Regions from separate parts of the Homo sapiens genome. Here region 2 is linked to region 1. The links come from fine-mapping of genetic effects on gene expression. A gene starts in region 1. The other region holds a variant in brackets. All regions are shown on one strand. Distances are between the middles of the regions. Region 1 holds the start of SP110 (SP110 nuclear body protein). Region 2 overlaps SP110 (SP110 nuclear body protein).

Region 1 (5,524 bases):
AAGTGACTTAACTGACTTGTTCACTGCAACCATTTCATGTCTCAGACATGCGCCTTTTCCCATGCCCATGCAGCATGTATTAAAGATTGGCCATTTATGGACTGTGAGGAGATATCAATAGGTTATAATGGGAAGAAAGTTTACAAATGACATTCTTGACAAATTGTCAAGAAAAGGAAAAGCACTAACAAAACATTCAATCAACTTGACAGTTTTTAACAAACAGAACAAACATGGATTCCACTTTTCCAACTTCATTTTGTGTTGAACAGAAAAGTAAATCGTAATTAACAACTGTTTACAGGGATTTAATCCCAGTGGCAGATTAAGCACCCTAGTCTCTTTCTCCTCATTCCCCAATTTTTTTAACTTGGCAGAAAAAAATACTCATGAAAAGAATAATCCGCAATCGCATAGGAAAACAAGAAAAGATGCCATTGAGAGTCTGTGGTGGTAAAGAAGTCTTGGAAGATAGAGAACAGATAGGAGAGAAATCTACTATCCACAATATGCACAGGGGAAGGAGATAGTGCAAAGATCAGTGCAAAGTCAGAGAAAGGCAGAGTAAACATATACTAAGAAGAGGAAGGGGTCTTGGAGGCTCCTTTTAGAACAATTCATTATACAGCAGCGCTCAGAACAGGAAGTCTAGAGCTTCCTCATTCTTCATCTGTCATGAGTCCCAAAGATGAAAGGGAGGCACAGAGAGGTTTAGTAACTCACCCAAGGTATTCAGTGGCAAAGCAGAGCTTGTCTGACTCTAAAGCCCTGTTTCTTTCTATGCAAGATACTACATCTCATATATGACTGTTCAGATTTTTATTATGTAAAGAGATTTTGCAAACGAATAAGCAAAAGACAAACATCCAACTAGAAAATAAAAAAGCAAAATACATGAACAGAGAGTGATAAAAGAATAAGCCAAATGTGCAATGAATAATACGATAAGCATGTTAACTAGCTAGTAGAAAGCATAAAGAAGGCCAGGCATGGTGGCTCATGCCTGTAATCCCAGCACTTTGGGAGGTTGAGGTGGGCGGATCAGCTGAGGTCAGGAGTTCGAGACCAGCCTGGCCAACATGGTGAAACCCTGTCTCTACTAAAAATACAAAAATTAGCTGGGCGTGGTGGTGCACATCTGTAGTCCCAGTTACTCAGGAGGCTGAGGCAGGAGAATCGCTTGAACCTGGGAGGTGGAGGTTGCAGTGATCTGAGATGGTGCCATTGCACTCCAGCCTGGGTGACAGAGCGAGACTCCGTCTCAGAAAACAACAACAACAAACAACCAAAAAAAGTGTAAATGAAGACAATTTGATAACATATTTGTCTATCAAATTGGCCAAGATAGAAAATAATAGTAATAATCTCAGACACTGTGAGTGGGAAGGTCAACAGGTCCAAATGTTCTGAAGGCTGATTTAGTAATCAGTGTCAAATGTCCTAAAACATGTGCTCCTTTGAATTTCCACTTCTAATAATTTATTTCAAGGAAATAATCATGTATTTAGAGAAAATATATAAAAAGTTCATGATACACTAGAGACGAAATTAAATGTACTCTCATTTTTTTCTTTTCCACCAGCTTCCCAAGTACCTCTAGTCATTTACACAATGGATAACAGATGAGCCGCCTATTGCGGGCACTGAAGGATCAGAGCTTAGGTGAGGGTAGAGGGCAAATCTCGGCTCCATTCACAATAACAGGCTGGACTCTGGCGAAAAAAAGAGGTGTCAGTGTTCCCTCCATGTGCCCCCTTTTAACAGTCTCCTAATAAGTACCACATGTCTGAGCTCTGAGAGAGCCTCAGAGTTTAAATAGTTGAACTCCACCCTGCAGCTGCTGCCGCGAAGTTAACTCTAAGAGCTGCAGTCACCAAGAGCGAAGAATAAAGCAGCAAAGACAGAAACTCACCTGGACTTTGAGTTTGTCGTTCCTGCCCCTTTCCAGGGGCTGGGACAGGGATCACTCCTCAAGATTGGGAGAGTTACAGGGAGATGCTAGCAGGCAAAACAGGAAGTCTGTGCTTTGACAAACGCAGTAAGGGGCCGGGCTTCCGAGAAAAGAAAAGTGAAAGTTTTCGGAGTTTGCCAAGCCGGAAGCTGAAGGCAGGTCGGTGCCTGCAGCCTCTCTCCACCTCCTCATGGGCACTTGTGAGGCTCCCAGGACGTCTTGGCAGTTGGGGTTTGGGGGAGGGCGTGTTGCCAGTTGGGATCAGCCCAGAGAGGGAGGTATGGGAGGAGGAGGCATAAGGGTACAGCCCCAGCGGCAATAGGAACTGGGAACTCAGCGTCCAAATGCTTCCCTAACCACATCTATTTTCCCATGACTTGTCCTCATTCTGTACATTTTAGGTTGATGAAAATGTTCTCAAACTGGATTGTGGTGATGTTTACATAACTGAATGAATTCACTGGAATTTATCCAGTGTGTTATCAAACTCTAACAACACACAAAAAAACAAAGAGAATGTGCCAGAAATGCCTAGAACTTGTCAGGATAAGATTATTACAGGAAGAAATTGAAATGAAAGGGAACCTGCACATGAACTGGAATTGTGCAGAGGCAGGCAGACCTCCAGGCAGAAAAATGGCTGAGAGCTGGGCAGGTAGTTGGGAGCCAGGAGTCTGAGGCAGAACTGGGACCTGCTGATTCCAGAGAGCAGTAACTCAAGGGCTGGCAGGGACACCCCTTCTCATGCCCCTTTTAAAGATCCCTAATGTACATTGACATGTGGGGCCTATGAAAAATCCTAAACTATTGGCCAGGCACAGTGGCTCATGCCTATAATCCCAGGACTTTAGGAGGCCAAGATGGGAGGATTGCTTGAGCCTAGGAGTTTGAGACCAGTCTGGGCAACATAGTGAGACCCCATCTCTACAAAAAATAAAAAAATAAAAAATTAACTGAGTGTGGTGGCATGCACCTTGTAGTCCTAGTTAGTGAGGAGGCTGAGGCTGGAGACTTGCTTGAGCCCAGGAGTTCAAGGCTGCGGTGAGCTATGATTGCACCACTGCACTATAGAAATCTGTGTAACTTTGGGCCAGGCTCGGTGGCTCACGCCTGTAATCCCAGCACTTTGGGAGGCTGAGATGGGTGGATCACAAGGTCAGGAGTTTGAGACCATCCTGGCCAACATGGTGAAACCCCATCTCTACTAAAAATACAAAAATTAGCCAGATGTGGTGGCGGGAACCTGTAATCCCAGCTACTTGGGAGGCTGAGGCAGGAGAATTGCTTGAACCCAGGAGGTGGAGGTTGCAGTGAGCCGAGATCGCACCACTGCACTCCAGCCTGGGTGACAGAGCAAGACTCCATCTCGAAAAAAAAAAAAAAAAAGAATTCTATGTAACTTTGATTAAATCAATAATTCTCAAATGTATTTGACCCACAAGTTCCCCTACCAGGACATCCACAAACTCCTCAGATAAAAGATGGGAGACATGGATCTAAAGTTTAAGAAGCTTTGAAACCAAGGCTAACTGCATAAGAGCAAGCCCTTCTATGCAGGCACAAACAGCATATCCCACCCTAGTATGTACAGAATAGCAGACCCGGCCTTGCGGGTAATGGCTGTGGGTGAAACAGAGGCATGGAAGCCACAGCCAGGAAAAATTCAATGCTAACAGCTGAGGAGAGGGTGCATTGATGCCTCAGCATGCAGTAACATACAGCGCTGTGATGCAGGGGATGGCGGTGGTAAAGGAATTAAGGTTATTTTATGCAAATGTCACATGTCACTTACCTGAAGCCCCTCCCCATCACCTGGAAAGCCCCTTCATGGGCATCTGAGGATCCTGGCAGCAAGAACTTCTTCCTTTAGATCTATTCAGAGATACACCAGGCAAATGCAAAACAAACAAACAAAAGTAAAGCAGGAGTGGGAAAATAAAGTCAATGTCAAATCAGGCAAAAATTGTTACATGAAAAAAAGACAGCTGCGAATGAGGATGAAAGATGTTTATTCTAAGCCATATATGCTTGGCTGGGCACAGTGGCTCAGGCCTGTAGCTTAGCTAGCACTTTGGGAGGCTGAGGCAGGCAGATCACTTGAGGCCAGGAATTCAAGACCAGCCTTGCCAACATGGCAAAATCCCGTCTCTACTAAAAACACAAAAAAATTAGCTGGGCGTGGTGGCACATGCCTGTAATCCGAGCTACTCGGGAGGCTGAGGCATGAGAATCGCTTGAACTCAGGAGCTGGAGGTTGCAGTGAGCTGAGACTGCGCCACAGCAGTTCAGCCTGAGCAACAGAGTGAGATCCCGCCTCAAAAAAAAAAAAAAAAAAATGCATGCTTGAGAACATGGTAATAATGGGAAAACGTCACCTGTTAATTCACATGCTAGTGATTATGTACTGAGATAAATTATACATAATTCTTTTTAGCTCCATTTTATTGAGGTATAAAATTTATTCATTGTAATGTACATTTTACCAAATGTAGTTACTACACCAGTCAAGATGTAGACCATTTCTAGGCCTGGAGAGTCGCTTGTGCCTATAATCCCAGCATTCTGGGAGGTCAAAGCAGGAGGATCGCTTGAGCCCAGGTGTTTGAGACCAGCCTGGACAACAGAGCAAGACCTCGTCTCTACAAAAATACATTTTTTTAAATTAATTGGGCATGTTGGCATACACCTGTGGTCCCCGCTATCAGGGAGACAGAAGTGGGAGAATTGCTTGAGCCCAGGAGGTCCAGTCTCTGGTGAGCAGTGACAGAGTGAGACCCTGTCTCAAAAAAAAAAAAAAAGATACAGACCATTTCTGTTACCCTAGAAAGTTCCCTGTGACCTTTGCAAACAATCCCCTCCTTAAGGCCAGCACCAGGCAACCACTGATCTGCTTTCTATCACCACAGATTAGTTTCGTGTGTATTAAAGTTTTTTTTTTTTTTTTTTTTATCAATGAAGGCACATGGAATGCATTTTTGGTGTATGGCTTTCTTTTCCTCATCATCATGCTTTTGAGATTCATCTCTGTTGTTGTGGGTCAGTAATTTATTCTTCTTTAGCAGGTATGCTAGCCACCAAGATCCTGCTCATCCTGTCTGATCAGCATGATGTCATCAATCAGTCTGACTTTTTTTTTTTTTTTTGAGACAGAGTCACGGTCTGTCTCCAGGCTAGAGTGCTGTGGCGCAATCTTGGCTCACTGCAACCTCCGCCTCCCAGGTTCAAGTGATTCTCTTTCCTCAGCCTCCTGAGTAGCTGGGACTACAGGCACGCATCACCATACCTGGCTAATTTTTGTATTTTTAGTAGAGATGGGGTTTCACCATGTTGGCCAGGATGGTCTTGATCTCCTGACCTCGTGATCTGCCTGCCTCAGCCTCCCGAAGTGCTGGGGTTATAGGCATGAGCCACCATGCCCAGCCCAGTCTGACATTCTATGGGATGTCCAGGTGATCCAGATATCTTTCAACTATATTATGACAAAGGGCAAGTGAGTCAATATAACCTGCCTGGACTGCCTACTTTCTTAACCTAGTCCTCTGGCTTTCCCATACATTCTGTGAGCTACCCAAT
Region 2 (5,000 bases), 50 kb before region 1:
AATTATGTAAAAAAAAACCTGAATCTCATCATTTTGCAACCTCTGATGATATCACGGATTTAGGTATTGCTAAAACCATCAGGTGATAGATGATCAGGCTGATAACACGTGCACCTGCTGCCAACCTTAACATAAAAAATAATACTAAATTCCCCTGTGAAGCCTGCATGTGCCCCAAAACCCCCAAATCAAAACAAACCCCTCAAAACCTGAGTTAAAGCAAGCTTCTAGATCTAACTTCTAGCTTACAAAAAATGAGAGGAAGAGAGGACTATACCACTAAGAAAATGCAACCAGAAAATTCCAGATTGCAAAAAATGTAATAGGACCAAAACCCTGAGTTCTTCAATAAATACATGACAATTTATAGCTTAAAAGAGACATAGGGACAGGAGAGCCAAATGCAGTGTGTGGAACTTGTTTAGATCCTGATTTGAACAAATCAACTCTAAAAAGACTTATGAGACAGTGGGGAGAATGTGAACTATGATGGGGTATCTGATGGTATTAAGGAAGTATTAATTTTTTTTTTTTTTAGTGTAGATATAGACTTTTAAAGGTAAAAAGAAAGAATAAAGATGGAGGGTGTGATAATCCTATGAAGTGTCTGGGTTTGGGTCCTGAGGGCAGCCAATTACATCCCAGACTCACTGGCAATCAACAGTCCAAGCCAGGGTCCCATCAGCTGAATCCTGAGGTGGGGATGCTTCAGTCTTTACAGAACAGGGTCAAGGAAGAGTCCAGAAACCGCCGTCATTGGCTTCATGAAAACCGAGCACGTCTTTGAGATCTTTTTCAAATTCTGCCTCTAAGTCAAGTCCTACCTGGCCAAAGTCAGAAGCCTGAAAGAGAAAAAAGCAAACAAACACATTGAAGGATGAAGGATTACAGCCATCAAATCACTCATACTTTTTTTTGTGTTTTTGTTTTTGAGTCAGGGTCTTTCCCCGTCACCCAGGCTGTGGTGCAGTGGCACCGTCATGGCTCACTGCAGCCTTGAATTCCTGGGCTCATGTGATCCTCCCACCTCAGCTCCTGAGAAGCTGAAACTACAGGCACATGCCACTATGCCCAAAGTTTTAAAACATTTTTTTCTCTTTCAGAGATCGGGGTGAGGAGGCCTTGCTATGTTGCTCAGGCTGGTCTCAAACTCCTGGCCTCAGATGATTCCCTCACCTCGGACTCCCAAAAAGCTGGGATTACAGATGTGAGTCACCATGCCCAGCCTCACTCTTATTTTTTTAGGAGCCCAGCAGTAAGGCAGAATGGATGGGGAGATGCTGCTACTAAAATGTTGAAAAGCATGAGACTCCAGCTGGTTGTTAATTTCCACCTGACAGGCGATTTAGACTGAAGGGTTAGTTTTGATCATGGCAAATCTGAGCATGATGCAAAATAGCTTAACAATTTTTGTAAATGCATTTCTTGGAAGCCCACTCGCTGAGGAAGGATGACCCTCTGTTCTCCAGGACTACGGATATGCCAGGCACTGAGTGGCTCTCTGGTCAACCCTTTCTCCCTGCAGCTCCATGAATGGGTACCAGTTTACAATCTGTGGTTTGTGAACATGCCAACTCCTGGCATGGAAGAAGGGAAGGAAGCTGGGTGGAGATGAAAATCTTCCTTAGGTACCTCCCAAGAAATATCTGTACAAGTGAGGATAAAAATCAGGAAAAACCAAAGTTACAAATGTCTGGGATTGCAGGATAGCTCAACCAGCTGTCCCTCCCTAGTAAAGGAGGATGAAACCAACATTGGATCTGAAGGCAATTCCAGATGTTTGAGTCCAATGAGAAATTTATGTGTAAAAATATGCAAGCCTGATTATCCAGGAAGTTTAATTGATTTTATGTTGTTTACTTATTTATTTTCATATTTCTGAGGCAGGAAGAACAATGTAGGCATAAACTGCCTTTCCTTCCAGTTTGAACAAAGAGGCTGGATGCCATTTACTGCTCTCGTTGGGAGCGAGCTGCCGATCTGGGAACAGAGCATGGTTTTTTTCAGCTTCTGTTCCAGAGATCCCTCCCCTGTCCTGCTTGCTGTTCTTTTTGCCACTCACTCCTTGCCTCCAGGAATGCCGAGGTGGTTTTTTTTCTGTAATCCTTGTCTTGTTTGAGCTCTCCCCAGGCTGAAACTGAGTGTAATACTTGCAAAATTCTGCTGTCCCAGAAATTAGGGGAAAGTAGAAAAGACGCAAAAAGGAAGCAGGAAATGCTCTTTACCTTGTAAAATGTTTTATGGTTGCGAAACATCAGGCGCATGTCTCGCACAAACCATGCCACCGTGTACATTTCCGTAATCAGCCTTTCCTTAACCAGGTCCAACCACATTGCTTCCTGAAAGGGCTCACCGTAATCTCGAATCTTGGGGACAAAGCCACCAGAGGTGACGTTAGCACAGCTGTCATCACTGGAATGGATCCAACTTAAATACAATCCAAGCCTTCATTTCCAGGGTCATAATGATAATACCATTTGACCTCTTTAAGCCAGCTATTGTTCTAGGCACTAGATAAACTAAATTCTAAGCCAAGTATATGAATATGTAATCTCCACATTTATGGGTACCATAAATAATAATGCCCATTTCATAGATGAGGAAACCGAGGGATGGAGAGGTCAAGGAACCTACCCAAGATGTCTCAGCAAGAAAGTGGTAGAGCTGAGATGGGAACCCACACAGTTTGGCATCTATGACTCTTTTTTTTCTTTTGAGATGGAGTCTTGCTTTGTCACCCAGGCTGGAGTGCAGTGGTGCGATCTTGGCTCACCGCAACCTCTGCTTCCTGGGTTCAAGCGATTCTCCTGCCTCAGCCTCCTGAGTAGCTGGGATTAGAGGTGCCTGCCACCATGCCTGGCTAATTTTGTATTTTTAGTAGAGATGG[G/C]GTTTTGCCATGTTGGCCAAGCTGGTCTCAAACTCCTGACTTCAAGTGATCTGCCCGCCTTGGCCTCCCAAAGTGCTGGGATTACAGGCGTGAGCCGCTGAGCCCAGCTGGCATCTGTGACTCTTAATCTCTAGTAGGAAAGACATTCTTCCTAAAGAGAAGATGAAACAGATACACAGGAGGAGAAGCAACTTGCCCGGTATCCCAGAGCCCGTGAGCAGTGGGGTGGAGTTTGAACCAGGTAGTCCCTCTCCAGAGTGTGCAGCAAAATCCCTGCTGCCCCGCTCCACTGCTGCCACGCTGCCCTTCTCTTCTGTTCTCCAGCTTCCTGAGCAAACTGCAGCACCTGCCAGATCAGCCCCCAAATTTCTCCAAATGCATTTTATGCAAGAGAACCGTAAAATGTGACTTACATTAAATGGGATGCCCGTAAAAAAGGAGCTTTGTGGATGACAGTAGGCCTTCAAGAGGAGGAACTCACATTTCTGTAAAATGTGAAGAGGGCTTGAAAGTGAAATGCAGCTTAGAAACAGTGAAGCCAGGCGAGTGTCTAGACATGCACACGGATGGGGCAGCCAAGCCCAGTCAGCATTCCAGCCATGCTTCCCAAGGCGCACAGGGTGTGTGGGATTTTGTTTAGACTCTGAGTTTGGGCATTAAATCGTCATCCTTTAAAGGGAGACATTGAAGGCTCCCTTTGGTACATTGCCCTGACCCTGTGCCTGTTTGTGCTTCTCGTGTGAGAAGGGAAAAGTATAGGTTTGGGGTTTGCATCCAACTCACCAGCTGGTCCTGAGGCTGCATCTGCCTCTCCAGGGTCTTAGATACATGATGGCACTGTTGGCTTCCTGAAGACCTCTTCATCCTGCAGAAGGTGCAACTCCACAGCATCCTGAGAGGTTGGACACAAGGTGAGCAGAGGGCAAAGCCCCTGGAAATGGCCACCATTCCTGTGGCTGCCACTGTCTTCCCTCAGGAAGGATGGGCTCAGCCATGAGGGTGGGACACCTCCCAGAGTGTCCAAGATCCCCACATGGGGTCTCCAGCATTGGCCCTTCCCTCGCATCAGTGGTAGCGGCAGGCGGGCAGCCTGAGGAAGGTGGTGTCACTGTTAAGTGTGGGCTCTCTTTTCCCTGTCTGAGCTGCTGGGAGCACAAAGGAACCCTGCCTGCCAGGCTTGAGTGTCAGAATCTGGGCTTTCACCTGCAGGGACCTCAGGCCTCCATCAGCCAGGTGAGACTATGGTGAAATGTGTGACAAGCCGTGCTTCCTGTCTTTCCTCAACAGGCACAGAACATAAGCTGGCTTTTCCCGTCCCCTCCTCCTTTTGGACAGGAGTCCCTGCTGTCCAGGGAATAGCATACTAGGAAAGGGCACTTCCAGGGGCAGAAGCAGTGTGGGGCCAAGAGGCTCACTGGCAGTCTCAGAGACCCAGAGAGGCCCAGAGTCTCTGGCACCAGACTGCTCTGCGTCACACCCTCGTCCCCGACGCTCACAGGTCCTGCCCTTTCCATCTGGAGGTGAGTGCTGTGTGCCCGAGGCGGGGCTGCATCCCACTCACCTCTTGGCTTCCACAGGGGGGATGTGACAGTCCTCATGGAAGACTCGTGGACAAGTACCGCAGCAGAGAAGTTGTCCCCCTTGACAGCACACCTCGCATTCATCCGAGTTTTTCCGCTGCAAGGGCAGATAACGTGGGCACCGCTAGGACCATGGAGACCCACGAATGCTGACCCTGTGGGGTTCTAGAACACATCATTTTTGTGTGTGCCAGAGTGGATATCCAAACCCAATTTTTGATGGGGGGAGCTGATGCCACCTCCCTGGGGGAAATTGCAAGACAAATGGCACAACAAGCAGAGAGTCTGGGTGGTGACCGCCGCCACCAGGACTTTTCTTCTCTGGCTGTGGCTTGCCAACAGGTTCTGCTGCGTTTTGAGCTGTGCTGCTGCCTGCTGGCAAGCTTGTGCTTTGAGCTGGGCCACTCTGGGCGCATTTGCTGAGCCCACCAGGCCTCTATTAATAGATCTGACTGACCAAAGTAAGAAATGATGATAACTGGCATTTGGGTGCAGGAGTATGGGAACTGTTGTTCCTGGTGCCTTGCCTAACT

What was found. PIP is the estimated chance that this variant, and not a neighbour inherited with it, causes the effect.
Region 2: its variant is fine-mapped to the expression of SP110 in blood mononuclear cells (TOPMed, PIP above 0.99). The same link has a PIP of 0.9 or more in whole blood.

Annotation. Positions count from the first base shown.
Region 1 is chr2:230,217,962-230,223,485 of GRCh38, forward strand. SP110 (SP110 nuclear body protein) reads right to left here and starts at 2,023. Exons shown (of 19, transcript NM_080424.4): 1 at 1,913-2,023. It also overlaps a transcript of SP140 not described here. RefSeq lists an enhancer at 1,752-2,231 and a silencer at 1,949-2,135.
Region 2 is chr2:230,168,396-230,173,395 of GRCh38, forward strand. It overlaps SP110 (SP110 nuclear body protein), which reads right to left. Exons shown (of 19, transcript NM_080424.4): 15 at 4,449-4,564; 16 at 3,671-3,779; 17 at 3,301-3,372; 18 at 2,226-2,366; 19 at 1-842. The coding sequence ends at 729. Among named protein-coding and RNA genes, the nearest start is that of SP110, 49 kb to the right of the region's middle. The variant G/C (reference allele first, on the strand shown) is at 2,888.